Homo sapiens: one gene and its partners. The protein of the gene in region 2 interacts with the protein of the main gene of each other region in a pairwise test. Each region holds a gene or a part of one and is shown on either strand. Other genes may lie near its edges.

The links.
Region 1: the proteins of PKP2 (region 2) and GRIPAP1 interact in binary tests that used the Homo sapiens proteins (3 or more experiments, as listed by UniProt).
Region 3: the proteins of PKP2 (region 2) and NCKIPSD interact in binary tests that used the Homo sapiens proteins (3 or more experiments, as listed by UniProt).
Region 4: the proteins of PKP2 (region 2) and ROPN1 interact in binary tests that used the Homo sapiens proteins (3 or more experiments, as listed by UniProt).

The regions. Positions count from the first base shown.
Region 1 is NC_000023.11:48,984,541-48,993,842, forward strand, and holds part of GRIPAP1 (GRIP1-associated protein 1), read right to left. Parts: intron 9,039-9,302; coding exon 8,888-9,038; intron 6,571-8,887; coding exon 6,386-6,570; intron 6,193-6,385; coding exon 6,145-6,192; intron 5,464-6,144; coding exon 5,432-5,463; intron 5,343-5,431; coding exon 5,295-5,342; intron 5,171-5,294; coding exon 5,071-5,170; intron 3,659-5,070; coding exon 3,581-3,658; intron 3,338-3,580; coding exon 3,245-3,337; intron 863-3,244; coding exon 728-862; intron 1-727. UniProt on the Homo sapiens protein: Regulates the endosomal recycling back to the neuronal plasma membrane, possibly by connecting early and late recycling endosomal domains and promoting segregation of recycling endosomes from early endosomal membranes.
Region 2 is NC_000012.12:32,788,073-32,795,897, forward strand, and holds the end of PKP2 (plakophilin-2), read right to left. Parts: intron 4,660-7,825; coding exon 4,572-4,659; intron 4,421-4,571; coding exon 4,352-4,420; coding exon of another isoform or gene 4,207-4,351; 3' UTR 2,683-4,206; downstream 1-2,682. UniProt on the Homo sapiens protein: A component of desmosome cell-cell junctions which are required for positive regulation of cellular adhesion.
Region 3 is NC_000003.12:48,673,328-48,678,201, forward strand, and holds the end of NCKIPSD (NCK-interacting protein with SH3 domain), read right to left. Parts: intron 1,421-4,874; coding exon 1,217-1,420; 3' UTR 517-1,216; downstream 1-516. UniProt on the Homo sapiens protein: Has an important role in stress fiber formation induced by active diaphanous protein homolog 1 (DRF1). Induces microspike formation, in vivo. In vitro, stimulates N-WASP-induced ARP2/3 complex activation in the absence of CDC42.
Region 4 is NC_000003.12:123,974,067-123,983,368, forward strand, and holds part of ROPN1 (ropporin-1A), read right to left. Parts: intron 7,359-9,302; exon of another isoform or gene 7,313-7,358; intron 6,539-7,312; exon of another isoform or gene 6,428-6,538; 5' UTR 6,416-6,427; coding exon 6,300-6,415; exon of another isoform or gene 4,609-6,299; intron 2,916-4,608; coding exon 2,798-2,915; intron 1,475-2,797; coding exon 1,313-1,474; intron 1-1,312. UniProt on the Homo sapiens protein: Important for male fertility. With ROPN1L, involved in fibrous sheath integrity and sperm motility, plays a role in PKA-dependent signaling processes required for spermatozoa capacitation.

The DNA of each region.
Region 1 (9,302 bases), on a different chromosome or scaffold from region 2:
CCCCGTCTCTACTAAAAATACAAAATTAGCTGGGCGTGGTGCCAGGCGCCTGTAATCCCAGCTACTCCGGAGGCTGAGGCAGGAGAATCGCTTGAACCCAGGAGGCGGAGGTTGCAGTGAGCTGAGATCGCGCTACTGCACTCCAGCCTGGGCAACAGAGTGAGACTCCATCTCAAAAAAAAAAAAAAAAAAAAAAAAGGAGCCGGGCGTGGTGGCTCACGCCTGTAATACCAGCACTTCGGGAGGCCGAGGCGGGCAGATCACGAGGTCAGGAGATCGAAACCATCCTGGTTAACACGGTGAAACCCCGTCTCTACTAAAAATACAAAAAATTAGCTGGGCATGGTGGCAGGCGCCTATAGTCCCAGCTACTCGGGAGGCTGAGGCAGGAGAATGGCGAGAACACGGGAGGCGGAGCTTGCAGTGAGCCGAGATCACGCCACTGCACTCCAGACTAGGTGACAGAGCAAGACTCCATCTCAAAAAAAAATTAAATTAAATTAAAATTTAAAAAATGAAAAAGAATTGATATCCTAACTAACTGAAGAGGCTCAGTTTCAGAGAAGTGAAATGACTTGTCCCAGAACACACAGGTGCTAATAAGTTAGGGAGCCAGACTGGAACCTAGGTCCTCCTGACTCCAGTCTTCCCACTCCACCTTACTGGGGACTTCACTGGGCCATTACTAGGGAACTAGGAAGAGACAGGCCAGAGCCAAAGGTGTTACCTGGAGCTGGGAGTTGAGGTCATCTTTCTGTCCCATAAGGTCCTCGTACTCAGCCTGCTGCTGCTGCAACTCAGCTGCCAGCCCAGTGGTCTGTTCCCGGAGCATATTCAGTTCTTGGGTCTTTGCTGTTTGGATCTGGAGAAAGTAGTGGTGATGAGAAGTAGAGTGAAAGGGACCCCAGGGGCCAGGGACAGGGTATGAGCCCCCTAGTTCCAGGGAAACAGGGAGGGAGGTGGGAAGAGAACCAGGAAGAGAGAGGAAATTTCAAACAGAAAAACAATGAAGAGAATGGGTAAATGTGGTATGTTCATACAATGGAATACCACACAACAGTAAGAGAACAGATCTGTGCTGCCACGTGGATAAACTTACATAGTGCTGCCAGAAAGAAGTCAGAGACAAAGAGCAGCTGATTCCATTTATATGAAGTTAAAGAACAAGCGAAATGAATCTTATGTTGCTAGAGATCAGAATAATGGTTACTTCTGGGGGAGTACTGACTTTGAAGGGGTAAAGGGGACCTTCTGGGGTACTAAAAGTGCTTTATACTTTGATCTGGGTGGTGGCTATGGTGGCGGGGAGAGAGAGAGAAAAAAAAGAGAGAGACGAAGAGAGGATTCACTGAGTGTACACTTAAGATTAGTACATTTCATGCACTTTACTAGAGAGAAACTAGAAACAAAGAAAAGCAGAAGCCGGGCGCGGTGGCTCATGCCTGTAATCCCAGCACTCTGGGAGGCCGAGGCGGGTGGATCATGAGGTCAGGAGTTCGAGACCAGCCTGGCCAAGATGGTGAAACCCCGTCTCTACTAAAAATACAAAAATTAGCTGGGCATGGTGGCACACGGCTGTAGTCCCAGCTATTTGGGAGGGCTGAGGCAGGAGAATCGCTTGAACCTGGGAGGCGGAGGTTGCAGTGAGCCGAGATCGTGCCATAGCACTCCAGCCTGGACAACAAGACCGAAACTCCGTCTACAAAAAAAAAAAAAAGCAGAGATAGGCCAAGCACAGTGGCTCACACCTATAATCCCAGCACTTTGGAAGGCCGAGGTGGGAAGATAGCTTGAGGCCAGAAGTTTAAGCCAGTCTGGGTAACATAGTGAGACCCTGTCTCTACAAAATAATTTTGTTTTCTCTTTTTTGAGATGGAGTCTCACTCTGTCACCCAGGCTGGGGTGCAGTGGCACAATCTCGGCTCACTATAACCTCCACCTCCCAGGTTCAAGCAATTCTCCTGCCTCAGCCTCCCGAGTAGCTGGGATTACAGGTGTGCGCCACCATGCCCAGCTATTTTTTTTTGTATTTTTAGTAGAGACGGGGTTTCACCATATTGGCCAGGCTGGTCTCGAACTCCGAACCCCAGGTGATCCGCCCGTCTCAGCCTTCCAAAGTGCTGGGATTATAGGCGTGAGCCACTGCGCCTGGCCTAATTTTTGTATTTTTAGTAGAGACAAGGTTTTGCCATGTTGGCTAGGCTGGTCTCAAACTCCTGATGTCAGGTGATCCGCCCACCTCTGCCTCCCAAAGTGCTGGGATTACAGGTGTGAGCCATCATGCCCGGCCAATAAGTTTTTTTTCGTTTTGTTTTTTGTTTTTTTGAGACAGAGTTTCACTCTTGTTGCCCAGGCTTGAGTGCAATGGCACGATCTCGGCTCACCGCACACTCCACCTCCTGGGCTCAAGCAATTCTCCCACCTCAGCCTCCCGAGTAGCTTGGATTACAGGTGCCCACCACCACACCCAGCTAATTTTGTATTTTTAGTAGAGACGGGGTTTCTCTATGTTGGTCAGGCTGGTCTCGAACTCCTGACCTCAGGTGATCCGCCCTCCTCGGCCTCCCAAAGTGCTAGGATTACAGAATTGAGCCACCATGCCCGGCTTTTTTTTTTTTTTTTTTTTTAGACGGAGTCTCGCTCTGTTGCCCAGGCTGGAGTGCAATGGCACGATCTCGGCTTACTGCAACCTCCGCCTCCTGGGTTCAAGAGATTCTCCTGTCTCAGCCTCCCGAGTAGCTGGGATTACAGGCACACACCGCCACACCCAGCTAATTTTTTGTATTTTAGTAGAGATGGGGTTTCACCGTGTTGCCCAGGCTGGTCTTGAACTGAGCTCAGGCCATCCACACATCTTTGGCCTCCCAAAGTGCTAGGATTACAGGCATGAGCCACCACGCCCTTTTTTTTTTTTTTTTTTTTTTGAGACAGAGTATTGCTCTGTCGCCCAGGCTGGAGTACAGTGGTGCGATCTCGGCTCACTGAAACCTCTGCCTCCTGGGTCCTGGTTCAAGCAATTCTCCTGCCTCAGCCTCCCCAATAAAATTTTTAAAAGTTAAAAAAAAAAAAAAGTAGGGATGGATGGCCAGAGAGAAGAGGGCTGGACGCCAACAGAAAGGAGCAACAGAAACAAAGACAGGAGAACAGCATGGGGTCCAGACCACCCTACCCTGATGTGGACCAGAAGCAGATGGAGATGGGGGAACTGGAGAGGGATCAGCAAGGGCCCCCAGGTGTTCTTTACCTGCTCCAGGGCAGCCAGGCTAGTCCTCAAGGCATTGTTCTCAGCCAAAAGCCCTTCCACTTGTTCCTGTGCATCTGCACTCTGGATGGATACCTGGCCCCACGTCCACAGCAGGTGAGAGTGGGTCCAGAACAGGGGGACAGGACCTACCCACGACCAAGAAAGAAAGGACACACACACACACACACACACACACACACACACACACACACACACACACACACACGAAGGCCTGGGGGAAGCAGGATCCCTGGGACCTTGCCTGACTATGTAGTACCCACTCAGGCTGCCCCCATCCTGAACCCCAGCTCCCTGAGCCCACGCAGTACAATATACCTGATCTTGTAGGGCCCGCAAAGCTGCTGCATGTTCCAGGCGCTCCCCCTGCCGCTGATCTCTCAGCTCTGCCAAGCTCTGTGGAGACCAGGGGAGCCCATTTTACACCTCAGCCTCTCCTGGGGTGCATATAACCGTACAGACTCTCTGTTTGACCACCCAGCAGCATGTTCTCAGCACCTGTGGGTCTCAGACTATCCAGCCAACAGCAATCTCAGGTTCACCCAGACGCCAGGTCACTACCCTCAGGGGCCTCAGACACAGTCAACCCCTCTATCCCAGCGTACAAGATCTCAGGCACGACTAGACTCCTGGCCCTAGCTGCTACGCGGTTCAAACTCACTCAGCTCCCATCCATAAGAAGTCTCATGCTCACCCAGATTCTAGCTTGGGAGCTCCAGGATTCTCAGACACAGTCAGCCCCATGGATCTCAGATGTAGTCAGCACCCAAGGATGACAGTTTCACCCAGCCTCCCAATCCCAACCACCAGGGGTTTCAGACACACTCATCTCCCACGTCCCTACTTCCCAGGTGAGATCCACCCAAACTCATAGTCCCAGATCCTAGAGGTCTCAAACTCACAACCTCCTAGTTTCCAGGTCCTGGTGAACTCTCAGACTGACCCCTTCACCTGTCACTCTGCTCCCCAGTCTCTTGGAATCTTCAGACCCAGTTAACCACCAGTTCCTGGGGGTCTCAGCTTTACCCAGACTCCCGTCTCAGACCCCATGTTCCCAGTTTCTAGGGACTTCAGAACCACAAGCCACCATATCCTCCATTCCAAGGGACCTCAGACTCACCTTTTCTAGAAGGAAACCCAGAGGCTTCAGAACCATCCAGCCCCCAGTCCTCAGGAGCCTCAGACCCACCTAAACTTCTGCTCCAGCCCCTGGAGGTCTCAGACTGACCAGCTTTTTGTTCACAGCCCTCAAGGATCTCAGGACTACCTAGCCCATATGATCCCACTTCCTAGGTGTCTTAGGCCCAAGCCAGCGCCCAGATCCTGAGGATCTCAAATGCACTCAGCCTTCAGCCCCAACTATCTCACCCTTGAAAGTTGTATATCTACCCAGCCATGTCCTCAGCCCTTGGGAGTCCCAAATTTACTGACATCCCAGCCCCTAAAGATTTCAAAGTCACCCAGCACCCAGGGAGTTCAGACTTACCCCAGTTCCTGGTCCTAGGCCCTAGTGACCACAGATTCATCCAGACTGTGGTCTCAAACCTCCAGGAGTTTCAGATTTACACAAACTTATAGCACACAGCCCCCTAAGTCCTTAGCCCCCTGAGATCTTACACTCATGAAGACTCCTATAACAATTCCTAGGGCTCTCCAATTCCCATTTTCCTAGCTCCTGGGGGGCCCCAGAACCCATTTCCAACACAGGAAATCTCAGACTCCCCAGCCAGCCTCCATGGACCTCAGACCTCTCCAGGCTCCCAGTCCTGGCCCCTACCCCAGGGATCTCAGAACCCAGTCCCCATCACCTGATTGGCAGCCTCAAGTTCCTGCTGCAGCTTCTGGGTTCGAGCCAACTGGGCTTTGTGATCAGCTTCCTTCCGTTGTTGTAATTCCTCAATCTTGTTCCTAGGAGTGATGGGGAGGGGGTGTGTTGGACATGGCTTGAGGCCCAGTCTCCTAGCTCTGCCCCTGTAATCTTCACTGGGCACTGTCCCAATTGTCCACCAATACCCGCAAATCTGGCAGTTACCTGCTGTCATTAAACAGAGTCTCCTTTTCTGTCTGCAGACGGCAAAAACTGGGCACAGAAGGACAGATGTAGATGGGTCAGTTCCGTAAGTTAATTCCCCCCTCGGCCCCCAGTACCCTTGGGAAAAAGAAATTTACCTTTCTTGTTTCTTTTTCAGTTTCTCGGAGAGCTGGGGAGAGAGGTACAGACAAGTGATAACATTGAGAATAATATAAAGACAAACCTAAAATTAATAAATATAGACACTTCTTATTAAGTCATTTTTGGAAGCCAGGATTTACTTATGTTGTCTTGTGGAATCCTCAAAATAGCCCTGACAAGTGAGTAGTACCAGTTTTACAAATGGGGAAACAGAGTCTTGGAAAGGTTAAGTAATTTGGTTGCTCAGCGGGTCAGCAACAACAATATTATCTCCACCCAGATCCTTCAGGTTCCAAAGCCCGGTATTTATGCTCCCAACATAGTGGCCAATGGCCATGTTATAGATTGGCTAGGCTGGGAGGCCTGGAAAGCAGGATATCATGACTGGGTGCCGCACCCCTGGGTCTCCAGGTCCTAAGATAAGAGCCAGGAGTCTGTAAATGCTTGCATGAATGAATGAATGAGTGAATGGGCAAAGCTGAGAGATGGATGGGATGAAACTTATCATGCACAAGATATAGTGGGACCACATTAACTCATTCCATACTGAAAGTAACTCTGAGACATAGGTGTGAGTCTCTCCATTTCACAGATGATGAAACCTAGGCTTTGATGGGGTACAATGCCCCTTCTGCCCTAGGATTGGGAATGGAATGGGAAAGAATCCAGCAGATTGGGAGCAGAATGGGAAAGAGCCAAGCAGCCGCACCTTAGCAAGTTCCTCCTGCAGCCTGGATGTTTCGGCCTGCTTTGAGCTCTGCAGGGAAGGATGAGGGATGGGAGGGTTGTTGTTAGCAAGGACAAGGAGAAGCCTTCCCCTGCCCTCCTGCCTCCCTCACCCCATCAGCCCACAAGATGGTGATGTCACAGCCATCTCCGTGGGACTATAGACAGAGGTAGAACATCTGCCCTGCCTTCTGGCATTCCAGCTCCAACAGACTCAGATTCACCTCTAAGCCTTGCAGCTGTTCCCAGAGCAATCTCTTCTCCTCTTTCTCCATTTCCCATTTCAGCTCCACCTCTGCCAACGGCATGGGGGCCAGGACGGTGGGGGCCAGGCCCCCTGGGGGATCCCCCTGGCCCTCACTGACAGCTGAGAACTTCCCGGCTTCTTTCCCATAGCGTTCCTGCAGGGCTGGTGAGTAGAACAGGGATATATGATGGATGAGGTGGTCTCTGAAGTCCCTTGCCATGCCTCGAATAGAGGGAGAACTGGCCTTCAACCCCTCAGGTGGCAGAGTCCCTGTGCCAAATGACCACATGCCTAAAAGACGAAGGTTCAGCTCTATCCATGCCTCTCACATTTTTTTCTTTTTTTTTTTGAGACAGGGACTTGCTCTGTCACCCAGGCTGGAGTGCACTGGAATGATCACAGTTCACTGCAACCTTGACCTCCTGGGCTCAAGTGATTCTCCCACCTCACTCTCCCAAGTAGCTGGGATCAGAGGTGTGTGCCATCATGCCGGGCTAATTTTTTGATTTTTTTGTAGAGACAAGGTCTCGCTACATTGCCCAGACTGGTCTTGAACTCCTGAGCTCAAGCAATCCTCCCACCTCAGCCTCCCCCAAAAATCTTTTTCCGTGGCTGGGCACGGTGGCTCACGCCTGTATCCCAGCACTTTGGGAGGCCAAGGCAGGTGGATCATGAGGTCAGGAGTTCAAGACCAGCCTGACCAATATGGTGAAACCCCGTCTCTACTAAAAATACAAAAATTAGCTGGGCGTGGTGGCGCACGCGCTTGTAATCCCAGCTACTCGTGGGGCTGAGGCAGGAGAATCGCTTGAACCCAGGAGGCAGAGGTTGCAGTGAGCCGCGATCGAGCCATTGCACTCCAGCCTGGGTGACAGAGTGAGACTCCGTCTCAAAAAAATCTTTTTCCCTAGACAGTCTTGCTCTGTTGCCCAGGCTGGTGTGCAGTGGTGCAATCATAGCTCACTGCAACCTCAAACTCCTGGGCTCAAGCGATCCTCCCAAGTAGCTGGGACTACAAGTGCACACCATGCCCAGTTAATTTTATTTTATTATTTATTTATTTGTTTATTTTCTTGAGACTGAGTCTTTCTCTGTCACCCAGGCTGGAGTACAGTGGTGTGATCTCGGCTCACTGCAACCTCTGCCTCCCAGGTTCAAGTGATTCTCCTGCCTCAGCCTCCCAAGTAGCTGGAATTACAGGCATTTGCCATCAAACCTGGCTAATTATTGTATTTTTAATAGAAATGGGGTTTTGCCATGTTGGCCAGGCTGGTCTTGAACTCCTGACCTCAGGCGATCTGCCCACCTTGGCCTCCCAAAGTGCTAGGATTACAGGTGTGAAACACCGTGCCTGGCCTAATTATTTTATTTTTAGTACACACAAGTTCCTGCTATGTTGCCTAGGCTGGTCTTAAACTCCTAGCCTCAAGAGATCCTTCTGCCTCAGCCTCCCAGAGTGCTGGAATCAAGGTATGAGCCACTGTGCCCAGGCTCTCACAAATATTTTAAGCCCTATCAACCACTAAGATTCTGTTTACTATTAAATTAGCCCAAGCTGGTTTCACAAATCCCATTCTCAATCCTTGAAGCCCCACCCATAGCCCTTGAAGGCCATGCCCACCATATGCTACCACTGACTTACAGCTGAATCCCTCCTAGAGCCTCCTAATTCCTACTCACATTCTACTAAGTCTCCCTCCTGGTCATGGAACCAGCATCCATCACCACAGAAGTCCCAGCTGCTCTCCAAAGTTCCACACACCACATGCTCCCACACTCTATCAAGCTTTCTTTCAGCTTTCATCCCAGACCCCACTTACAATCTGGGCTCAGAATCTTCCCAACACTCCATTCACTTTTTCACTTAGCAAATATCTCCTTTTTTTTTTTGAGATGGAGTCTCGCTCTGTCGCCCAGGCTGGAGTGCAGTGGTGTGATCTCGGCTCACTGCAAGCTCCACCTCCCAGGTTCACACCATTCTCCTGCCTCAGCCTCCAGAGTAGCTGGGACTACAGGCGCCCGCCACCGTGCCCGGCCAATTTTCTGTATTTCTAGTAGAGACGGGGTTTCACCATGTTAGCCAGGATGGTCTTGATCTGCTGACCTCGCAATCCGCCCGCCTCAGCCTCCCAAAGTGCTGGGATTACAGGCGTGAGCCACCGCGCCCGGCCGCAAATATCTCCTTTTTGACATTCAAGCTGCTAATCTGTAACATCTGCTAGGTACCAGACACTGAACTAATGCAGAATGATATCACCTTTTATCTCTACTACAATCTTCTGGGTGACAGACATCACTACATGCACTGTGTAGATGATAAGGCTTTGGCTCAGAGAGGTGAAATGGCTTGTCCAAAGCCACACAGGGCATGGGCCAACCCTATTTCTGAAGCCCTTCTCCTTCCCCTGAGAGGATGACGGCCTTCCTTGCCCTACTCAAGCCCCAATGTCTCCGCATCCCCAGGAGGGCCTCTATGCACCTGCCACGTTCTTCTGCAAGGCTGTGTTTTCAGCCTGTAGCCTCAGCAGCTCCCCATCCACGAGGGGCCCAGCTTGGGCAACCCCTGCTCCTGCAGCCCCCTCCTTCAGTTGCTGGTTCTCTTGCTCCAGCTGTTCCATCTGGCTGCAGAGCTGAACAGAGGAAGAGAAGGGGCAGAGAAGCAGAGAATCAGAGCAGTATTTGCTGAAACCTACATAGCATTTGTCCATGTACTTTACAATTCACTTAATTCCCATAATGACCCTATGATATAGGTGCCCTCCCACTTTACAAATAAGGACATTGAGGCACAGAGATGTTAAACAAGTTCAAATTCACACATCTTTTAAGTGGCAGAGTCAGAGAATACCAAGAGCATACCAAGTATGAGGACACCAAAAACCATTTTCCTCTTC
Region 2 (7,825 bases):
ACAATCATGGTGGAAGGGGAAGAGGCATGTCTTACATGGTGGCAGGCGAGAGAGAGCAAGTAAGAGCAGGGAAAACTGCCTTATAAAACCATCAGATCTCATGAGAACTCACTATCAGCAGAACAGGATGAGGGAAACCACCCTTATGATCCAATATGATCCAATCACCTCCCACCTGGTCCCTCCCTCAACATGTGGGGATTATAATTTGAGATGAGATTTGGGTGGGGACACACAGCCAAACCGTATCAGCATTTATTGAGTAGATACTATTAGGCACTGTTTCAAATGCTTTGTATTTATTAACACAGTTAACCCTCAAAACAACCCAATGAGGTAAATCCTACTGTCACTCACACATTACAGATAAGGAAAGCTGAGGCTCAGTGAGAATAAGAGATGTGCCTCAGCTAATAAGTGGAGAAACCACAATTTGAGCGCAGACTGGCTGTTCTAGAATGAGCCCTCTTAACCATGATGTCATACTGAACTCTTTACTCTCTAAAGATAGCAAAGCCAAAGAGACCTCCACTGTTCACCAGCACGGAGACATGGATTGTTCATTCTTGGTTCACAGGGGACTCCCAGAGAGGAGCCAAACCATCTAGGTTCACAAAGCCCCTCTGTACTTTCCAGCTATGACTTAACCTCTGTCTGCTTCGAGGTTTTCTTTCTCATGCTTCTTAAAATGTTAACAAGTAGGCCGGGTGTGGTGGCACACACCTGTAATCCCAGCACTTTGGGAGCCTGAGTGGGGTGGATCACGAGATCAGGAGATCAAGACGAGATGAAACCTTGTCTCTACTAAAAACAGAAAAAATTACCCGGGCGTGGTAGCATGCGCCTGTAGTCCCAGCTACTTGGGAGGCCGAGGCAGGAGAATTGCTTGAACCTGGGGGGCGGAGCTTGCAGTGAGCCGAGATGGCACCACTACACTCAAGCCTGGGCCACAGAGCGAGACTCTGTCTCAAAAAAAAAAAAAAAAAAAAAAAAAGAAAAAAAAGAAAAAGAAAAAGAAAAGGATGATTTCATGAGGCTGTGAGAAGTACTCAATATATGTCCACTATTACCCTATCAAAGCTAGTCTCATAACAGCCTCCCCCTATTGATCCTGGTTTCATCCTCTGTGTTATGCCAGAACAAGCCTATCATCTTCTCTACAGTGGGCTTTCAAATATGTACAGAGAGGTGACACAGCACCCTTCTCAGGCTAAGGACTGCTGGATCCTTTCACTGAGTCTCCCAGACTAGGGCCTTCAGGGCACTTTCCCTTCTGCTCATATTTTCAACAATTCTTATGCCAATGCTTGGGATTTTTGAGCTCTTTCCTGAACATCATATCACAAAGAGTTTTTCTTATAGTCCTTCAAAGGTTAACATTTACTTCATAAGTGATGAAACTGTCAGTATCACTATAAACTAAAACATGAAACTTAAAGCAGAATTTTATTTTGAAAAGTTTGCTCCCTTATCTATTTTCCCTCCCACAAGAAATACTTTAATCCAACAGTGAGTCTTGAAAAGAGCCAGTTATATGGTCATGTTGAGCATTAGTTGAGTGTATGACTGTATGTTTTTCTTTTCTGTCACATTAATAAGAACTGAATCTTTTTCATGCAAGATGATACTTTGAGGAGGATTTGACCAAATGCCTTCTAAATTCCCTCTTAATCCTGAGATTCTGTGATTTGAGGCTTCTTCTGCAATTTTGTTCAATGTACACACATACTGAAGTCCTCCTTATTCCAAAGCAGTAAGTTCATTAGACATTTTATTTAGGGGAAATCTCATTTTATAACTATAGTATATAGGCACACATACACATACACACACATATATATATATATGTAGGTGTCTATATATAAACGTATGTGTGTGTGTGTGTATATATATATATATCTCCCATCTCCTGTTTTCTTCTAAGAAATTGCTTCTTCAGAAGGTGATTAAATTGGTTTTATAGTGGTTTATCTAGTCCTGCTGCTTATTCTCCCACTTGACATGTTAATCCCCTCTCTATTTTATCAGATAACCCTTTGGTTATTGCCATCAGATCTACACAAACGTTTCCAGTGATGGAAATCTAGGGCAGCAACCCCCTTCATTCCAGAAGACCATTAAGAATTCTTGACAGAGAGCAGCCCTTTGGAACAAATAAACAAAAAGGCCCAGCTTTGCCCATTAGTTTCTCTGAAGGCATGGGCCCTGTCTGGGACACATAGGAAAACAAACACATTTATGTATAGACCTGTGATCAAAACTGTTCATTCACAGAAGAACCTCCCTGAGAGGTGTTCACAAATTGTAAAGTAGTGAGGTGTTTGCAAACAGAGTGAACAAAGCAGCACATGGAAATCAAACGTAGTCTGTCTTTTCACAGTCACAGAATCACCCAATAATATACTAAAATCTAACCGCAGCTAACACGTCTGCATGTGTCTTCATTTTTATGGTCAGGTCACCATCTAGTCCCACCATTCTCACAGGAAATGTCTCTTGGTAAAAATTTAGGATTTTAATTAAGGGGAAAATATAACTAATTACAAAGTATCAAACCCTTAGTAATTGAAGTTTATAAGGTTAAATCCTCAAATTTTATGTCAATCATACCATATATTCCAAGATACACAAATAAACCAGATATACACAGACGCCAATGCAAGCAACACTACTTTGGTCTCATTTTGTATTTAATATTATCGAAGGCTTTATTAATGCCTTAAAAAACACAAAAAGTTCTGAACACACATTTATTATCTGGAGGAATAAATGCACTCCAAATGCTTATCATCAGAACTCTGGAAAAAGACATATAAATTCTCTCCAGTATTTTAAAAATTGGTATCTAAATAATTTCATTTTGAACTAGGTTAGCAACCTAAGTTGTCTTCATTCAGCTTTTAAAATTGAAAAAAAATTGCTTCAAATATAATAAAGACTTAAGTACACATTCAAAATTTATTTTCTGTTACAGTTTTCTTGCCAAAAGGAGTTGAAGAATTTTTTTGCTTATCTTACTTAGGACAAATGTTGTCAGATTAAAAAAAAAAATAACAGAATAGTAGTTGTAAAGACTAACTCTATATGAATGGTTTTAATCATAGCGCAGTTAAAACAACATTTAATGTAGATTCATTTCGCTGGATGATGTCAACCATTTAAAATATCAGTATTTCTCATATCATTTCTGGATGGTCTTGACACATTCTTACATCTTCTTCAACATGACTTCTTCACTTTTCTTCTCTAGAGTTTTCTTGAGTTAAAATAATGGCTTGAAGAAGATCATATGAGATCTAGTGGCTCTGTGATATTTCTTAAATGGTGGGCAAGGCTGGGCTGGCTGATAATGTAACTCATTAACATGAGCCGTATTTTCAGTGCCCCAGGCTGGCCAGGCAGTCTGAGAGAAGGCCTTAGTTCCTCTTGCAGATAAAGATAGAGTCCATTCTTTCACTAGTCCAGGGCAGTGGCCAAAAAAGTCCAGGAAAGGCATTACATAGAATGCCATCGTTTAGAAGAGATTTGGATTTAACGGCGTTGTTATAGGTAAAGTATCTCCTGAGAAAAATCTCATTGACTCAGTGTTTGGGGGAACGTTAAATTTTATCATCACAGTTGCCTTTCTCTGTGGAAAAGATTTTATTTATTTATTTATTTTTTATTTTACTTTAAGTTCTGGGAGGAAAAGACTTCTTTAATTTGCTATGATCACTTCCTCTCAATTTCTTTTTCTTACAGTCATGCATACTCTGTAATCTAAATTTCTTAAGTTTATTTAAAAATCAGAGAAAAACAACCCAAGGGGATAAAAACAAGCACAAAGTAAAGAAAGAAACCAATAATTTTGCCATTATACTTTCTCCTGGATAACTGCAGATATTTCTTGTCATTTCCATTCTGTTTCAACACTGCAGAACAATACACTGGAGGCCCAATGGCGAAGCAATGTGCACATGAGTGACAAAACATGGGAACCAGAAAAGGAATATAAATGTAAATCAAACTTTTAAAATCCCAGTAATGCAACAGCTTCTTTCCTTATTTATTGGATTAATGTCCCTTCCACATGAATTCACATTTTGATTCCAGGAAGCCATGTACCATAAGCCCTAATAACAAAGACCACTATTTGTCGAGCCTGTGGCCGGTATCTACTGGTGGCAAACTTGCAAAGGTCTTCTGGAAGACTCATAAAATTATGTTCTATTTGTTTTCTGGATTCAGGGGACCACGGAAATAGAGAAGGATAGAAACAAGGCATGCTTTTGAGGTTTCTTGGGCTGGGTAGTAGAAAAATAGGTGTTTTCCTTTGGGGATTTTTGCAGCCGAGAATACTTTGTCATTTTCCTCAGTCTTTAAGGGAGTGGTAGGCTTTGGCAGTCCGGCTGTTGACAAAATCTGTCTTCTTAAACTGAGCCTTTGGAATAAGCAAACAGAAACGTGAAAGGTAACAAAACTGGCACACAAGAAAATGCAGTTTTTTAGCGATTTCTTCCCAGGGTCAAGTCAAGTGGGCCATTATTACCTGGCTCTGTTAACTATGACACATTCCTTGTTCATGTTCTTACCTTCTTGTAGGCATGATGCAGTTCCGTGTGTGCCCACAGAGAATACAGAAGGACGGAAGCAGCTTTACTTGCTTTGTTGGAGGCATAGCTGAAAAGAAAAGGACATTCTGAGATCAGGGAGAATGAGTGAGGCTTCTGGATGCGGCCTGTGGGTGTTCTGTAAGACCTCTTCGCTCCTCAACTGCTACTCCGCAGCAGCCATCCATGAAGTCAGGCCACTCGGTGACCAGACAATTAGGCAGCAAGCTCTGCAAGGCGGGGACCATATCTGTTTTTGTTTTCTTTTTAAACCACTAGCACAGTGCTAATAAATAAATAGTTTATAGGCCAGGTGGGGTGGCTCACGCCTGTAATCCCAGCACTTTTGGGAGGCTGAGGTGGGTAGATCACGAGGTCAGACCATCCTGGCCAACATGGTGAAACCCCGTCTGTACTAAAAATACAAAATCTAGCTGGGCGTGGCAGTGTGTGCCTGTAATCCCAGCTACTCGGGAGGCTGAGGCAGGAGAATCACTTGAACCCGGGAGGCGGAGGTTGCAGTGAGCCGAGATCACGCCACTGCACTCCAGCCTGGTGACAAAGCTAGACTCCATCTCAAAATAATAATAATAATAATAAACAAACAAGTAATTTATACAGAAAAATCCCTGATATTTATAAGGAATGTATCTTTAGATATGTTATAAATCCTTGAATTATTTATAGAATATAATCTATATTTGTATACTTATAATGTATGTTTATAGAATAAAAATGCATGAAACCATGACTGAAAAATACATACGATTTTGTGACATCATGAATGTAGGAGTAATTTTTCAAGTCAATAAAAGAAATTCTTGTGGCAGCCCTTGTTAAAGCAGTTTCAAAATCTCTTTACGTTTCCATATAGAGCAAATGGAAAACTTGTTCTTGCTATAAATCAAAGTCACCACTGCATTTGAACTGTACTTAGTCTTTCATATTCTGCTTTTTTTTTTTTTTTTTTTTTTTTGAGGCTGGAGTGCAGTGGAGCGATCTCGGCTCACTGCAACCTCCGTCTCCCAGGTTCAAGCGATTCTCCTGCCTCAGCCTCCGAAGTAGCTGGGACTACAGGCGCATGCCACCACGCCAGGCTAATTTTTTGTATTTTTAGTAGAGATGGGGTTTCACTGTGTTAGCCAGGGTGGTCTCGATCTCCTGACTTCATGATCCGCCTGCCTCGGCCTCTCATAGTGCTGGGATTACAGATGTGAGCCACTGTGCCCAGCCCATGTTCTGCTTTTAACTTTATCCTAAATGTCCCACCTCTGGCTTAGATCAGTGCCGCCTTAGATCTCTTTCTCTTCTATCACCTGATTAGCACATGGCTGATTTTTTTTCTTAAACAAAGATTCTTTTTCCCCCCATATCACAGGCATTTGTAAACATAAAACCAAAACCAGAGAGTGCAAAGATGTACGGAGAAGAGCATGGTGTGTTCCTTCAAGAGTGAAAAGTCTTTCTCCTCCATACTAGCCTGGCAGGGAGGAGCAGTCAAATCAGCACTTATTAGTAACCCCTGGACTTTTCAGAATCACTTGGTAATAACTGAAGGGCAAATAAATCCATCAAAGTGATGGGTCTCTAATATTCAAAACTGTAAAAAGTTATTAAATTGCAAGGCTGTTATATTCATAATATTTGTTTATAAGTTGGTTGTTTGATACTTGGTACTCTTTTATTCAAAGATGTAATGTTATAAATGATAATTAGTTCCCAGGCTAGTCCACAAACGGTAGGTCAGATATATAACACTCTAGTAAGGAAAGAGCAGCAGACACCACTGGCAAGAAGCTCCTTGTTAACTTTTGTTTTTGAGACAGGGCATGTGAGGACTCACAAGTGGACACTCGGAAATAAACAAGTAACAGAGTAGCTCACCCCTTATCTTGCTAAGCTACCAGAAGTTTCCAAAAGTAATTGCATATTGCCATGTGCAACAATTGTTATGTCTGAATACTCGAATAATGAGCATCATACTATCTTACGGTGATTTGCTTGGAAGTTTGGATGACTATTTGGAAGAAAAGTCATTTCTGTTTTGCAACAGTAATTCACTCTTTCCACAAAGACTGAGCAACTCTAATACTATCTGCCAGCCTCTGGGGATGGGTGAATATTCTTGGGGAACTGACACTCCAGCCAGTGCTCAGGGCTTGTTTTAATCTGACTCTAAATGCAGTCTTCCTTCCTTGTGTGCACTGCAGAGTGGGGCTGCAGAGCAGAAGGGGCCTAAATTGGGTGGGGCTGTAGTAGAGGTAACATGTACATCCCTGTACAGCCAAGCACACATTTCTTCAGTACAGGTGAAGTCATCTGCTTTGTAACTCATTAAAACTAGGCTATCATAGCCATTTCTTTTCTTGTTTGGTTATTTACAAAAGTAACATATCTATTTGTAATAAGTCAAACAATTCAGAATTGTATAAAGAGAAAAAGATAATCTTCATGCCCCTTTCCAATCTCATCACTCTAAATTAACTAATAGTAAATAATTTGGTTATACAAGGTTTTTCATTCTCCTCCTTTTTTTTTTTAATAGGGAAAAGTTGAAAACAGGAACACAGATGTGGAATGACATGCATTGGACCTTCTATTATCAAAAGGGAATAAGATGCGGAAGAGATAAGACAGAGAAAAAACTGTGAAAGCAAGACTTTCTCATCAGGCTACCCCCTGACTGCTTCTCCTGTGTCATCACTGCTGCTGCTGCTTTTTTTTTTTTTTCTTTTTTGAGACAGAATCTCACTCTGTCAACCAGGCTGGAGTGCAGTGGCACGATCACGGCTCATTGCAACCTCTGCCTCCTGGGCTCAAGTGATTCTCAAACCTCAGTCTTCCAAGTAGCTAGAATTACAGACACGCACCACCACACCCAGCTAATTTTTGTATTTTTACTAGAGACAGGGTTTTGCCATGTCGGCCAGGCTGGTCTCGAACTTCTGACCTCAAGTGATCCATCTGCTTGGGCCTCCCAAAGTGCTGGGATTACAGGCATGAGCCACTGTGCCCAGCCCATCACTGCTTCTTCTAAACCACCTGGTGTGACATCCCCTCCTAAGATGGAAGTGAGGAAAAGGGCACTTGCCTATTCAGAGGACTCCTGCTTTGCCTACATTCTGCTGTTATTAAATCACAGCTGTGGCTTTGGGAAACTAATTCATTAGGCCAATACAATGCTGGAATGCACAACCAAGAGAAGTTCTGGAGTCTGACCCTCTGTTGATACTTTA
Region 3 (4,874 bases), on a different chromosome or scaffold from region 2:
GGAGGCCAAGGCAGGAGGATCACCGGAACTGAGGTGTTTGAGACCTGCTTGAGCAACATAGTAGGACCCTGTCTCTACCAAAAAAAAAAAAAAAAATTAAATTAGCTGGGCATGGTGGCTACTGTAGTTTCAGCTACTCAGGAGGCTGAGGCAGGAGGATCACTTGAGCCTGGGAGGTCAAGGCTACAGTGAGCCTGGGTAACAGAGTGAGACTGTCTCAAAAAAAAAAAAAAGGAGAAAAAGAAAGATGTAAGTGTGTAAGTGAAGCCTGGAGATGCAGACACCTGCGAATGGGCTGCTGAGGGGCACTTGGCTATGGCTGGGGCTCAGGAAAAGTGGAGCTCAGGGAAGAGAGGCTAGAACAGGGCTCAAAGGGCCTTGAAGGCCAGGCCTGTCAGGGTCCATCACCTCCTCAGGCTGGAGAAGTCAGTGCAAGCTGCAGTGATGGGGTCCTGAGGCCCCAGTACTTCTGCCCATCCTCTCCCACTGTCTCCCAAGATCATACAGGGAAGCCTGTTTCCAGATGCCTGTGATTTATTTCCAAAGGAGAGCTACAGCACATAGGAAAATACACATGGCTTTTCAGTCTACATTTTTACAGAGAAAAGAGATTCGGTCATTGGCTTTCTCAGTGCCATCATCCTGTTCCATGAGGCTCCAGGATGGATGGCCTGTCTCCAAGATCCCGCTTTCAAAGCAGCAGCTTGGCCAAGGCCTCTGGGGGTAGGAGTGAAGGGCAGCGACCCCCATGTGCGGGTGGAGGGGAGGACATGAGCAGCACTCACTGCAAAGCTAAGGCAAAGAATAGAGCTGGTGGGAGATGCCTCCCCTCACCCCAGGGGCATGGCTTGCTGAGGCCCAGGATACAGACCAGGAGGGGTGGGGATGGGGGTCTGGTCCAGCCTGGAGCGGCAGCAGGACTCTGAGTGTACACATGGGTGTGGGGTGAAGAGGGGGGCATGCTGAAGAGGAAGCCTACCAGGGTATAGAGGGGCTTTAGCTTGCATATTCCCCCTGCCCCAGAACAGCTCCCAGACCATGGTCCCCAATCCTACACTTGGCCCCTCTCTTAAGTTCTACTTCAGGTGGGGGTCCTGCTCAGGTTCCTTCTGCCACCTTATCCCCTCCCACTGTCAGTGCAAAACATTCTTAGGGCCAAGCCCCTGAGTCCCCTGCACACTGACTGGAGCTGCAGGGAAGGGAGGACAGCAAGGTGCTAGCTGGGAGCCTCCCCCAGCACCAGGAATTCCTTGCACATCTCTCGGACAATCATGCGGTCCATCTGGCACTGGGGTGAGGTCTCCTCCTCATTCAGGATGCGTCGCAGTATGGCCTGCAGGTCGGGTAGCCGGTGGCGGTGCTGCAGGTAGGGTGTGGTGCGGACTATAGCATGCATCAGGGAGAGGTACTCCATGCGCAGCTGTGGGAAGAGCAGGCCAGCTCAGGGACCCCAGGGAGGTACTGCAACCACCACTGGACAGGGACAGGACCCCACTGTCCCACAGACCCCAGGGCTGTGGACCTGAACATCAGGGCTGCATCCCCAGCACCCACAATATACCTGGCACAGAATTGGTCTTCAATAGTTTTTGAGTAAGCGAATAAACGAATCATCCCAGCCACAGACAGCCCCAAGTATGTGGCCTGCCCAGGGAAGTCCTGCCCATCCTTTGAAGCTGGGTCTCTCAAGGTGCCTCTGTCTATCAGTCAGAGGCCCTCTGCTTCTCACCCTATCCTCTCTTACCCTGGAAGACCTCGTGCACATTCACAGCTTCAAATAGTGAACCACTCTCATACCTCTTACCTAGAACTCCCCTGTGAGCTCCAGACAAGAATATTCAACTGCCCACTTGACATCTCCTGCACATGTGACAGACCTCAAATCCACATATCTACCACCAAACTCATGATCTTTCCCATCCTCCCAGAGTTGAAGGTTTTCTCATGTTCTTACCTTTAGAAAGAGCACTGTTGCCGATTCAAAAGCACAGGCCTGAAATATGGTGTCCTCTTTGCTTCTTGTCTCCCACATACCTCATATCCAAGCCATGTCTAAGACCTGGCCATCCTACCTCCTACATATGCCCCAAATTCATCTCCAACAGCCTCTCCTCCAACCTATACTCCCAACACCTCTGGCTGAACCAGTTCCAACAGCCCTTATGATCTATATATATATATCATATATATATATATATATGATATATATATATATATATCATTTTTTTTTTTGAGACAGGGTCTCGTGCTGTCACCCAGGCTGGAGTGCAGTGGCATGATCTTGGCTCACTGCAACCTCTGACTCCTGGATTCAAGTGATTCTCCTGCCTCAGCCTCCCAAATAGCTGGGATTACAGGCATGTGCCAAAATGCCTGGCTAATTTTTGTATTTTTTTTAAGAAGAGACGGGGTTTCGCCATGTTGGCCAGGCTGGTTTCAAACTCCAGACTTCAAGTGATCCACCCACCTCGGCCTCCCAAAGTGCTGGGATTACAGGCGTGAACCACCACGCCCGGCCAGCCCTTATGACTTGACAGCTTGTTCTCACAGAGACCCCCAGTCCACTGACCTGATGTCTGCTTCCCTCAACATCCCTCATTTCTCTTTTTACCTTTAATTAGAGAAATAATACCAAAACCTCCTTTAGGCAGCACACCCTGCTAAGTCCCAGCCCTGGGAGTCATACTGAGGTGCCTGCACATCAAACACCAGCGTCTAAGCTATAGACAAATGCAGAGCCATGTGCAGGCCTGAATGTCATTCACCACCGCAAACCTCAAACGGACACACAGCACTGCCTGAGCCTCCCACTGCTTTTCTCTGCTGTGTCACTCTCCCTTAGAGTAGTAATAATGTCCACCTTCTCTGTCTTTGAAACCTACCTACCTTGTCAGCTGGCCTTGTGCTTCATAGAGAATACAGAAGTAATCTTGCAGAAACCCGTCTTTCCCCTCAGTACCCACATCTCACCTGTCCCTACCAGAATGAGCAGCCCTAGCTCCTGTCCATGTGGGCCTGGACCTGAACTCTCCCCTCCTGCCCCATCCACTTGACTCCTGTGGTGGCTCACCATCTCCAACACATCATCCATCTCTCTGTGCTTGCTGGATCATTCCCTCCGGCTCAGAACATGCACCATCATCCGTACCATTTTTGTTTTTGTTTTTTAAAGAGACAAGGTCTGGCTTTGTTGCCCAGGCTGGAGTGCAATGACACAATCATGGCTCAATGCAGCCTTGACCTCCTGGGCTCAAGTAATCTTCCCACTTCAGCCTCCAAAGTAGTTGGAATTACAGGTGCATACCACCATGCCCAGCTAATTTTATTTTCTACTGTGGTCCATCAGGTTATACAGAGGTCTCACTATGTTGCCCAGGCTGATCTTGAACTCATGGACTCAAGTGATCCTCCCACTTCGGCCTCCCAAAGTGCTGGGATTATAGGCGTGAGCCACTGCACCTGGCCAACATCCCCCATCTGTCACCCAAGCTGGAGTGCAGTGGTGTGATCTTGGCTCACAGCAACCTCCACCTCCCGGGTTCAAGCAATTCTCCTGCCTCAGCCTCCCAAGTAGGTGGGATTACAGGCTCCCACCACCATACCCAGCTAATTTTTGTATTTTTCGTATTTTGTATTTTTAGTAGAGACCACTTTGACCAGGCTGGTCTCGAATTCCTGACCTCAAGTGATCCACCCACCTCAGCCTCCCAAAGTGCTGGGATTACAAGCATGAGCCACCGCGCCTGGCCAACATCCCCCATCTTCAAAACACTCTCCCTGGCCAGGCACGGTGGCTCACACCTGTAATCCCAACACTTTGGGAGGCTGAGGCAGGTGGATTGCATGAGGTCAGGAGTTCAAGACCAGCCTGGCCAACATGGCGAAACCCTGTCTCTGCTAAAATATAAAAATTAGCTGGGTGTGGTAGTGGGTGACTGTAATCCCAGCAACTTGGGAGGCTGAGGCAGGAGAATCACTTGAAACCAGGAGGCGGAGGTTACAGTGAGCCACGATCGTGCCACTACACTCCAGCCTTGGCAACAGTGGGAGACAAACAAACAAACAAACAACAACAACAAAAAACCCCCAAAAAAACACTCTCCCTATCCCCATGTCATCTCTCTCCAGCAACCTCCCTTCCATTTTTCTCTTCCCCTTAATAGAAAATTCACAAGAGTTGTCTCCATTTACTGCTTCCAACCCTCCCCTCATTTCTACTCCCCAATAACTTCAAGCTCTCTCAAACTTTCATTCAGACTCTCCTCCTTGCACCCCACTGACACTGCTTGTCAGGCACCACTGACCTCTGTGTGGTGAATCCAATGGCCAACCCCAGTCTCGCTCAGGCTCCTAACGGTATAGAGATGGCTGATCGTCTTCCTCTAAACATGTGGCTTTGGGCTCCTGCTTTCTTGGTTCTCTTCCTGGGTTTCTCCCTAGTTGTTTCAGCTGTGCCCAGGGCTGCAGCCCGAACTTCCCGCTGACCTGCCTATCTATCTCATTTCTGAGGCAATCACATTGTCACAGGCTTCCCATCGTATCTCTGCATAGACCACTCCGAAATGTCTCTCTAGTCTCAACTCATTCCCCACTGCCTCCCTGATGCCCTCGGTACCTGGGTGTCTAGCAGATATCTCCTCATTCTTGACACATTCAAAACACGACTCTCTATTTTCCCCCAAGAAGTTCTCCCAGCCTCCCCAACTTCAAAAATCAGCACTTCATCCATCTAGCTGCTCAAGATAAATCAAGTGGCAAGCCCTGCCAGATCCACTTACTAAACACTCCACAGCTGGCCTCTTCTCGCCACTGCCACTGCCACGACCTATCCCATCCCCACCCCATCCATGCCACCTGGACCACTGAGGCTGCTT
Region 4 (9,302 bases), on a different chromosome or scaffold from region 2:
AGTTACTGCATCAGACTAAAATTTCAGGATTGGATTGAATTTATTTATTTTCTTATTTGACCCTTTGTGGGTGGGGTAGACCAAGAAGATCCAAATTAACTACAGATAAAATTTTAAAGGTATATTTTCCCCCAAAAACGTCTCCAAATGTGGTGTGAAAAAAATCTGTAACCCTATGAGAATTTAATAAAATATGTTCATTTTTTATCTTCCTGTTTGTGATTTTCCCCAGTCCTGACTGACAACTCATAGGCCTCTGCTGCTTACTTTCCTTTCCTCCTCAGAGGATAGTGATTTATTCAGTAATAAATGCTATAAAGGACAATGAAGAAAGTGCCACAAATGTCCTCTTGTTTACTTCTCTCTAAAGAAATGATTATGATGAAGGCTGTAGGGGAATCTATAGGAAATTTGGACTACAATATTTCCACTAAATTTTCTCAGAAACAAACCTGTCAAATATGTATTCCAAGCATATTTGAGAAGAACAAGATTATGTTTAGATATGCTGAATGATTCAGACTACCTTTTCATACCATTTGGTTTTGGCAGAGGCAATTATTTTCTCAATAATTTTCAAACTTGTATGTATCTCAGGGATTCTTTTAAAAAAACACGTTTTTGATTCATTTTAAGTTATTTTAACAATGTTTAGCAATGTAAGTCCACATATAAGATACCCAAGCTTTAAATATCTATACATATAAGCTGATTTCAGCATCTTTGGCTTCAAAACAGTAAAATTGCATTTCCAATATCAAACAAGTCAAATTTGGAAAAGGCATAAATCTGTATGAACATCCTGCATCCATGGAGATGTCATGACTAAATTCAGAAATAGCCTCATCTCTCTTTTTTTTTGCTTTCTTATGTCTGAGTTCTGCATCCAATTCTGTTTATTACATAGTTTTCGATAAGATTGTACCCCTTTTAAACAGTGTCTATTGATATATATTCTAGGTGTCTGGAAGTCTTTTTCTACAGTCGGCTCTTGGTTGTCTCTGGGAATATGAATGGAAGGAGCGGAGTGAAAATAAATCTGAGGGCAATATTCATAAATAATCCAAGAGCTACACTGTAGTCAACTCTCCCCAGAGCCTGACCACAGTGTTTCCCTCTCTCCTCCTCCCAACCCCTGCCACTGCCTGACGAGCACAGAAATGACCTTGCTTTAGAGAGGAGAAGGACAAGAGGAGAAGAGGCATGTTTATCATCAGCCCTGCAGAGTTGACCGCGTGTATAGATGCACTGCCCTTCCAGGCCCAGAGGGAGATTTCCCCTTCAGGAACAAAAAACAGTCAAGCTAACTTACAACTCCCAGAGCGCTGCAAGCAAGGGCTAAAAACTTCAGCCACTCGATCTCCTCCGTGAAGCGACCCACATTCATCACACTATTAAACAGATCTGTTGGGAGATTCACCACTTTCCACATCTGGGCCAGCTCCTCTGCACGGATGATCAGTCTGCCAGCAACCTGCAGGGCAGGGGACAGACACAACACAGAGGTTGTGGGAGAAGTTGAGACAAGGCCCTGAGAAACACCCTGTCCCCAGGCCAGGTCCACATCTCCCAGCACATGGCAAGGGGCGGGAGGGGGTGTTAGGAAGGTAAAGATGGCTCTGTGTGGCAGTTATCTTTGCAAATCCTAGTGAAGAGCATGCTGAAATATAATTTATTAATTCTCAAACTTTAGGTGTCAGAATTATGCAAAAGATATACATTTATATTACATTTTAATTTCTGGTGATGCTTTTATCTGCTATTGTATTCCTAAATTGTTTTATTCCTTATATGACAGATAGAAGAGCCTGAAAACAAAACCAAGGGGTAGAGGGCTTACCTGAGACCACTAATGAATGGTAAAATTAGAACAAGACATAGGTCTGTTTCTTCCCGATTGCACTGAGTTCTTAGCTCTAGACCTCAAGTGCATCCCTCATGCTTTCCCAGGAATGATATGGGGTATGTGGCTGACCTGTGGGGATTTGGTCTGGATGCCTAATGTTGCTTGATCCCAGGTATTTTAGAGCTCTGTCATGTTCACTGCACAAGGTACTTGGTGGATAAAAGGAGGGAAGGTGACTGGTTGTTGGCCACCAATGCAACAAGAGCACAGATGCCCGATGAAGTGCTCCAACACCTTTCCTGACTGTCTGATTCTAGTGAAATGCTAAGCCTCTGGGACCAAGGTGGTTAGCCAAGCCAGTCCTAAATCACCCCAAACCGCTCTGTCCTGGACCATAAAGCAGGGTTTGGTGGTGCTCAACCATATGTCCTGGGAATTTGCCAAACCACAAACTTTCTCAAGCTGCACCTTCCTCATGCATTCATTCACCAGGCAGCTCCCAGGATGATGTGGCTATGAAGAGGCTCACAGCCTCTCCCTAAAAGCTAAAAGCAATGTCTGGACCTTGGATAGCTGGGGAGCTAAAATATGCCCTTCCCCAAACTGTGATTTTCATCATATTACAGTCTTGATCAGTAAGGAGACACTGTCCAGTGACTGAGGACTTGCACTTTTCTGGAGAGACGAGATTAGCATTGCATTGAGCCCCTGTACATTCTGCCAGCTTCAAGGAAATCTGGGATGACCCCACCAATGACTCAGCCTACAGCCTATTTCAAAATTATTCCCATTTGCCAAGGAAAGATTTACTTTCAGTCCACGGTTTAGTGTATTTTAGGGTGGTGCTAAGTGGTCAGCTGACTGTCAGGAGAACAGAGGGCTTTTTGTCTGTACCCACCCAGCCTCAACACTGTCCCTACATTCTCCTCAATGCTGCAGCAGGGCCCTTACCTGAGAATGCAGGATCTTTAACAGCTCAGGTGTTAGCTCTGCCCGGTTACACAAAGCGACTCGCTCAGACCGCTCTCTCACCGGAGGCGTCTCTCCACGGGACAGGGCCTCAAAATAACTACAAGAAAAAAAGTCAGAGAGTAGGAGGATCCTATACACCAGTGGCCTCTGGCTGTTCTAGCAATCCTTCCACCTTCTTCTGAGGGAAGGAGGTAGAGAAAGGAACCTTTGTTAAGTGGCTTCTATGTGTCATTGTGTTTAGTTCACTTACATATGGGAAAAGTCTGAATGTGTTACTCTCCACTTAGGGCATAGAGAATGCTTAGAGAATACAAAGCTTTGTTCTTCTCTAAGGATGAGGAAGAACCAAGAAAAGTTTGGGTATGCAATTCCCTGGAGCATATTGGGTTCAGGTTTCTTTTTCAGTCATCTCTGAGTGTTTTATACACGCAGATGTATATTACATATGTATATATAATATTGGGAAGAGAAGTTGGAAGAGAACTAAAAAGTAATGTACGTAAGAAAGGGGAAGGCAGCACAGGAATGGTGGCTAGGGCCTGTAATCTGGTGACTCCAGGCTGGAGGACCACTTAAGCCCAGGAGTTTGAGGCTGCAGTGAACTATAATTGTGCCACTACACTCCAGACTGGGTGACAGAGTGAGACCCCCATCTCTGAAGAAACAAAAAAGGAGGGAAGGGGAAGAGATGGAAGTGTCCTGGGGTGAATCAGGAAGGGTTTCTGGCTGGAGGTAGTGAGGCTTGGGGCTTCAAGAGGGAAGGGAGAGAGCATTGGCAGGGCAGCCTGCAAGGCTCAGGAGAGAAGAGAAGCCGAAGAAGGTTTGAGACAATCTTAAGCTATATGGTGCCTCTGAAATGAAACTGTTTCTCCATCTTCCCTCAAAATTTTCAGTGAAATCTGCCTGCTCCTCAATGTTTTGTGGAGTGGACTTCGTTTGGGGGCATTGTGGAACAAGTACTGAGTTCTGTTTCAGGACTGGCATAAGATGAAAAGAGGCTGCCTGCAGCAGGGAATGGACATGAGCCGCTGACATGTGGGTCACCAATGCAGCATGGCAGGGTCTGTCTCCATCAAAAGCCTGGTTATTGACGATCCATGAACCACAAATTTCTGTCCCGCCCTGCTTTTTTCCCTCCATTACTTCCTCCAGATCCAGGTAGTATGAAAATAATATAGAGGGAATTTTGTAAAAGTCCATTTCAGGGTCAAGCCATACAATGATGGGCTAACCATTGCCTGTCTCTGAGCCACGTAGCAAGGCAGAGCGAAAGCTACATGGACTAAAGCAGTAATTGCCAGTCACCCCTTGGAGGTCATCAGCAGGAAGGGCACCTTTAACAATGTGCATGAGAAATCTCTGCACACAGATCAGTGTTGGGGTGGGCGGGGTGTGGGTGCAATATGACAATAGGAGCAGGGTGTGGCCTCAGGCTTTATAAACCAGACTTGGGTGGTATAAATGGGAGGGACAGAGACACACAGCACCTCATTCCACAGAAGTGCTGCCCAGGTAGAGTAACACTCATCACCAACATCTCTGGACTTCTTGTGGAATTGGTTAGACAACATGGAAGCAAAGCTGTAATCATGGATTTCGTTCTTTGGGTTATTGAGCTTCATTTGCAAGTGATCAGGTCCATGGTTATACACATATATTGCAAATTTGTGTTGTAACACATGCCTACCAGAGGACAAATAAGTATATGTCCTGCCGATGCCTGGTAAGAGGTTTCTTCATTGACAACACATATGTAGGGAAATTCTTACTTGCAATGGATTAAAAACGTATTTTGTCTTGGAAACACTTTGCAGAGTTTTATTCTCTAAAATGCTACAGGTTTTAAGTAAGTCACATACAACCATCTGAGCAGTGCTTTTCATGTCTGGATAGAATGGAGGGGGCTCTTAGGTCATGCCCTCCTTTTTCATTGTGGTTAAACTACAAACTAAGTTTTCATGGATGTCTAAAAAAATTATAGCACGTGATACAATACGAGAGCAAGCAGTCTACAATAGTGGAATGCCTCTTCCATAAATGTCAGGGACAATACTAAGCAATGTCAGTTTGCTTACTATAAAACGGCAGCACAAGAACAATCAAATGGGTTTGAAACTAACGTATAAGATAAAGTCTGTCTATCTGACTATGCCAAAATAAATTAGTCTTCTGAAGCTAAAGTTCAATCTTAGAGGCAATATATAAAATTTAAAATGGAGAACTAAACAGGGCTCATTACTAGGCAAAGCAACCCCCATTTATGTTTCTTTTTATGAGCACCACTGGCTTATTTTCCTTCCAATTGTAAAAGCTACATCCTAATCCAGTCCAGGAGCACAGCACTGGCCCAGAGACTCCGAAAGGCCCCTCTTAGATGCCATTTTGTGTCTTCTCAAAGGTGTCCACACTCTCCCCACCATCTGCCCAGGACACCCACTCACAACCTCAGCCTGAGGACATCTTCCCTTCCCCAACTCACTGGCTTTCTCTCAACGGCCTCTCTCACTCTCACTTTCCCACTGAAACCCTCCTAAGCAGGGAATCATCAAACAGTAAAAATAGCCTGAAAATGGTCCGTGAGGTCTAGTTATCTTCCAACTCCTGTCTCAAGTCCTGGTTCCCCAGTTTCAAGCAGGCAAGTTTGTCCAAGGAGCAATTTCATAGCTGAGAGGCTTTCTGTGCAAAGCTACTTCAATCCAGGCCCGCAGCGATTGTTGTGTAAGCTCCATCTACTGAGCAGCCTCTGGAGGTCTCTCCTGAAAGAAGGCACCCGTGTTTGAGGCACACTGTTTTCAGCCATGCCTGAGGACCCCATCACTCTGCTTGGCCTTTCCCCAGAATGCAGTGTGTACTGTGCGGACATCTTTATGTTGGCAGAACAAAATCAGTTCAGAGAAACACTAAAGAAAATAACAATAATTTCCTCCAAGACAAGATATAAAGGGTCTTTGGTTGGGTCCAAGTATGAGTTTTAACAGCAGGGGAGGAAGTGTCTCCTTAAAGGAGTGAACTAGCAGGACTGGTCCCACCCCATCCACCCAGGGCTGTCGCTTCCCTCCCCCGGCTGCACTGCTGCCATCTAGTGGTGAGACAGGAGAACGAAGAAAGGCAGATTAAGCTTCGGAGATTCCCAGCCCTTCTTTCCACCGGGAGTGGGAAAAGGCGTGCAGGGAGGAGGTGGGTGTGCATACGCTGGTGTGACGCGGTCATCTAACTTGCTGCTTGCCCCAGGACACGGCCTATTGACCTGGCGTCCTACTGCTCAATCTGGCTCCCTTAGGGGAGGCATCCCATCCTTGCCCAGCTAGATGTAGCATTTATGTGTGGATTTTAAAGCATCAAAGCAATGCAAGAGCTAAAACAAAGACGATGCCAGTTAGTCCGGACTTCCTAGCTGCAGCCATGACAACCTCCGCGGTTTTACAGGACCCTCTGTCTCCGGCCGTCCTCCAAGGGGTGAAGGCGAGAAAGGAGCACGTACTCGGCTGCCCACTGGATGAGGTCCTGCGGCTGCACCCTAATGGCGGCTTTGGCAAACTCCTTCAGCATCTTCGGCAGCTCCGGCGGGATGCATGTTGGCTTATCTGTCTGAGCCATTGATTGGTTGGCCTATTCTCAGGAGAAAAAAATACGTTAAGATGAAAACTTCGATTCATACGATGAGAGCAATCCTGGACAGGAGGTCACCCAGCCTCTGTTTGACACTCAATTTTGGGGACTCTGCAAGACAAATGCATTCTATTATTACACAACGCCAAGGTTAGAAAACCATCTGCTAACCCCTACTTTTTGTTGGAAATAGTTATGTCCTTTACATAAAAATTACACAGCCCTTGTTCATTTAAAAAGTGGAGGTCAGCAAAAAATTCCCTAATGATATCGCCCCAAAATAATGATATCACCCCCCAAAATCCAGAATTTTTCAGTATATATATGTTTGTAAAATAAAAAAATAAGATTATACAAAACAGCTTATTTACTCAAAAGTATATCATGAACATCTTTCCATGTCGTCCAGCACTTATTAGTTGGGTAAGAATTGTAGCAAAATTTACTCTGAACCCTCTGTGAATTGACATTAGGCCATTTCCACATAAAAATAGTCATTAAACAGCCATTTGGTGAGCGTCTCTCTTTACAGCTGCATGTTCTTTTCCACTCTAATTGTCAGGTGGAAAATTCGTACATTTTCTCTCAAAAAGTTCCAGGACAAATTGAAACAAAATATGAAAATCCATAAAGTGTATACAATTCCCTCCACAAATAAACAACAGATCAAAAGATTTTTTTCTGCTTTTAGTAGAGAAAGGGACAGACTAGATATGCTAAAAAGCTGTCCCTCTTCAAAACACCTAGAGGCCAGACAAATCTCAGTACAAGCCTTTCACATTGCCTTGCTGGGCTTGCAGTGAAGTGAGAGAAATCTTCCAGTGGCCAATGAGGTGAGTAAAGGGGAACCCGCAGTGCTGGGCAAATGAAGAAACTAGGGCTCACCTGGGCACATGTAGATGGCAGGAACTTGCAGCTTTGAGATAAATTGCTAGGCAGGGTGGATAGAGACCAAGGATTAGGCTCACAAAAGGCAAATGTCTGGACTAAAGGACTCCCCTTCTGACCTAAACTTGAGACCCGCCCAGGGACTACACCCTCAGCGTGAAAAGGTGTGGCTGAAAATATCCGCCTACAGGCAGGGGTAAGCAACAAAGAAACCTGTCTCCATTGCTGCTTCTAGTCAGGAGAGAAACAGTCCCCCAGGAGTTGGTAGCCACAGACTAGTTCTAAGTTTTCAATTTATGCCAACACCAGCATGGCTGGGAAATCCCAAGACAAGAAACTAAAGTGGTCTTAGGTTGGTGGGACTTCATGACCTTTTACTTTATTTATGTTCTTTTATTTGGAGGAAAAAGAGGATAAAATAATGATTAATTTTAGACTTTGCAAAGTGTTAGAAAAGTTATAACAGTAATGTAACCACTAAATCTGTAGAGAGGAAAAAAGGAATTTTTTAAAAACACAAACAAGCAAACAAACAAAACCCTTCATCAGTCAAAAAGAAGGCAAGAAAGGAGGGGTAAAAACAGGAAAAGTAGACAAATAACATGGTAGAAAATAATGCATACATATCAGTAATCACAATAAAAATAAATGGGCTTAAATGTGCCAGTTAAAATACAGGTATAGGTACACCTGAAAAAATGAAGACACAGAAAGACTCAAGGTGAAAAGAGTATAAATAAGCAAAGAATAACCAATAAAAGTTAAGGTAGACATACTCATGCCAGACAAAAGATACTTTAAGGCAAAATGCACTATTAGGAAAAAAGAGTGACGAAAGCTTCAATTGTTTTTGATAAAATGATAAAAAGCTTCAATTGTTAAGACAATAACAACAATTCTCAATGAGTATGCCACAGACATCACCATGGAGGAGTCTCACCATGCTAGGTGGAAAAGCAATATATTGTTTCTGGTGACATATATATGTTATAATATTATAATAAAGAGTAAGGAATGATAAATACAAATTCAGAATGGTGGTTACCCCTGGTGGAGGAGGGAGAGGATGGAGAGGGATGTTATTAGGGAAATACAACAAGGGTCTCAGTACTATTAGTAATGCTCTATGTTTTAAGCTGGATGGTTGCTGTCTAGATGCTTGTTTCATTATTTTTATACTTCTACTTACATCATGTATTTAATTTTGTCAGTATGAAATATTTCATCATTTAAAAAGTTACTCTTATAAGTTGTTTCTGATGACTTTTCAACCCATTTTATCTATCAAAGAGCAGTGCCTTATTTGCTCATGTTGTCTGCACATATATATATTCTTTTACTGTGTTAAAAATACATACAATTTACCATTTTAAATGTACAGTTCAGTGTCATTAAGTACATTCACATTGTTGTGCCACAATCACCACCAGCCATCTCCAGAACTTTTTCATCTTCACTAGCTGAAACTCTGTACCCATTAAGTACTAACTCCCTATTCTCCTTCCCCACAGCTCCTGGCAACCACCATTCTTCTATCTTCATGAATTTGACTATCATATAAAATCATATGGCATATAATATTTGTCCCTTTGTGTGTGGTTTATTTCGCTTAGCACAATGTCTTCAGGTTCATTCATGTGGTAGCATGTGTCAGAATTTCCTTTTTTTTGGATCCATAGTCAGATGTGTTACCCATTGCACCACTGGCCCCAAGCTGAGAATTTCCTTGTTCTTAAGGCTGAATACTATTTTGCTAGATGTACCACAATTTTATCCATTCATAGGTCAATGGACAGTCGGATCATTTCCACATTTTAGCTATTGTGAATAATGCTGCTATGAACATAGGTATACAAATATGTGTTCAAGTCCTTGCTTTAAATTGTGTTGGGTATATATACCCAGAAGTGGAATGGATGGATCATATGGTAATTGTATTTTAATTTTTTGAGGAACTGCCACACTGTTTTCCACAGCGGCTGCACCA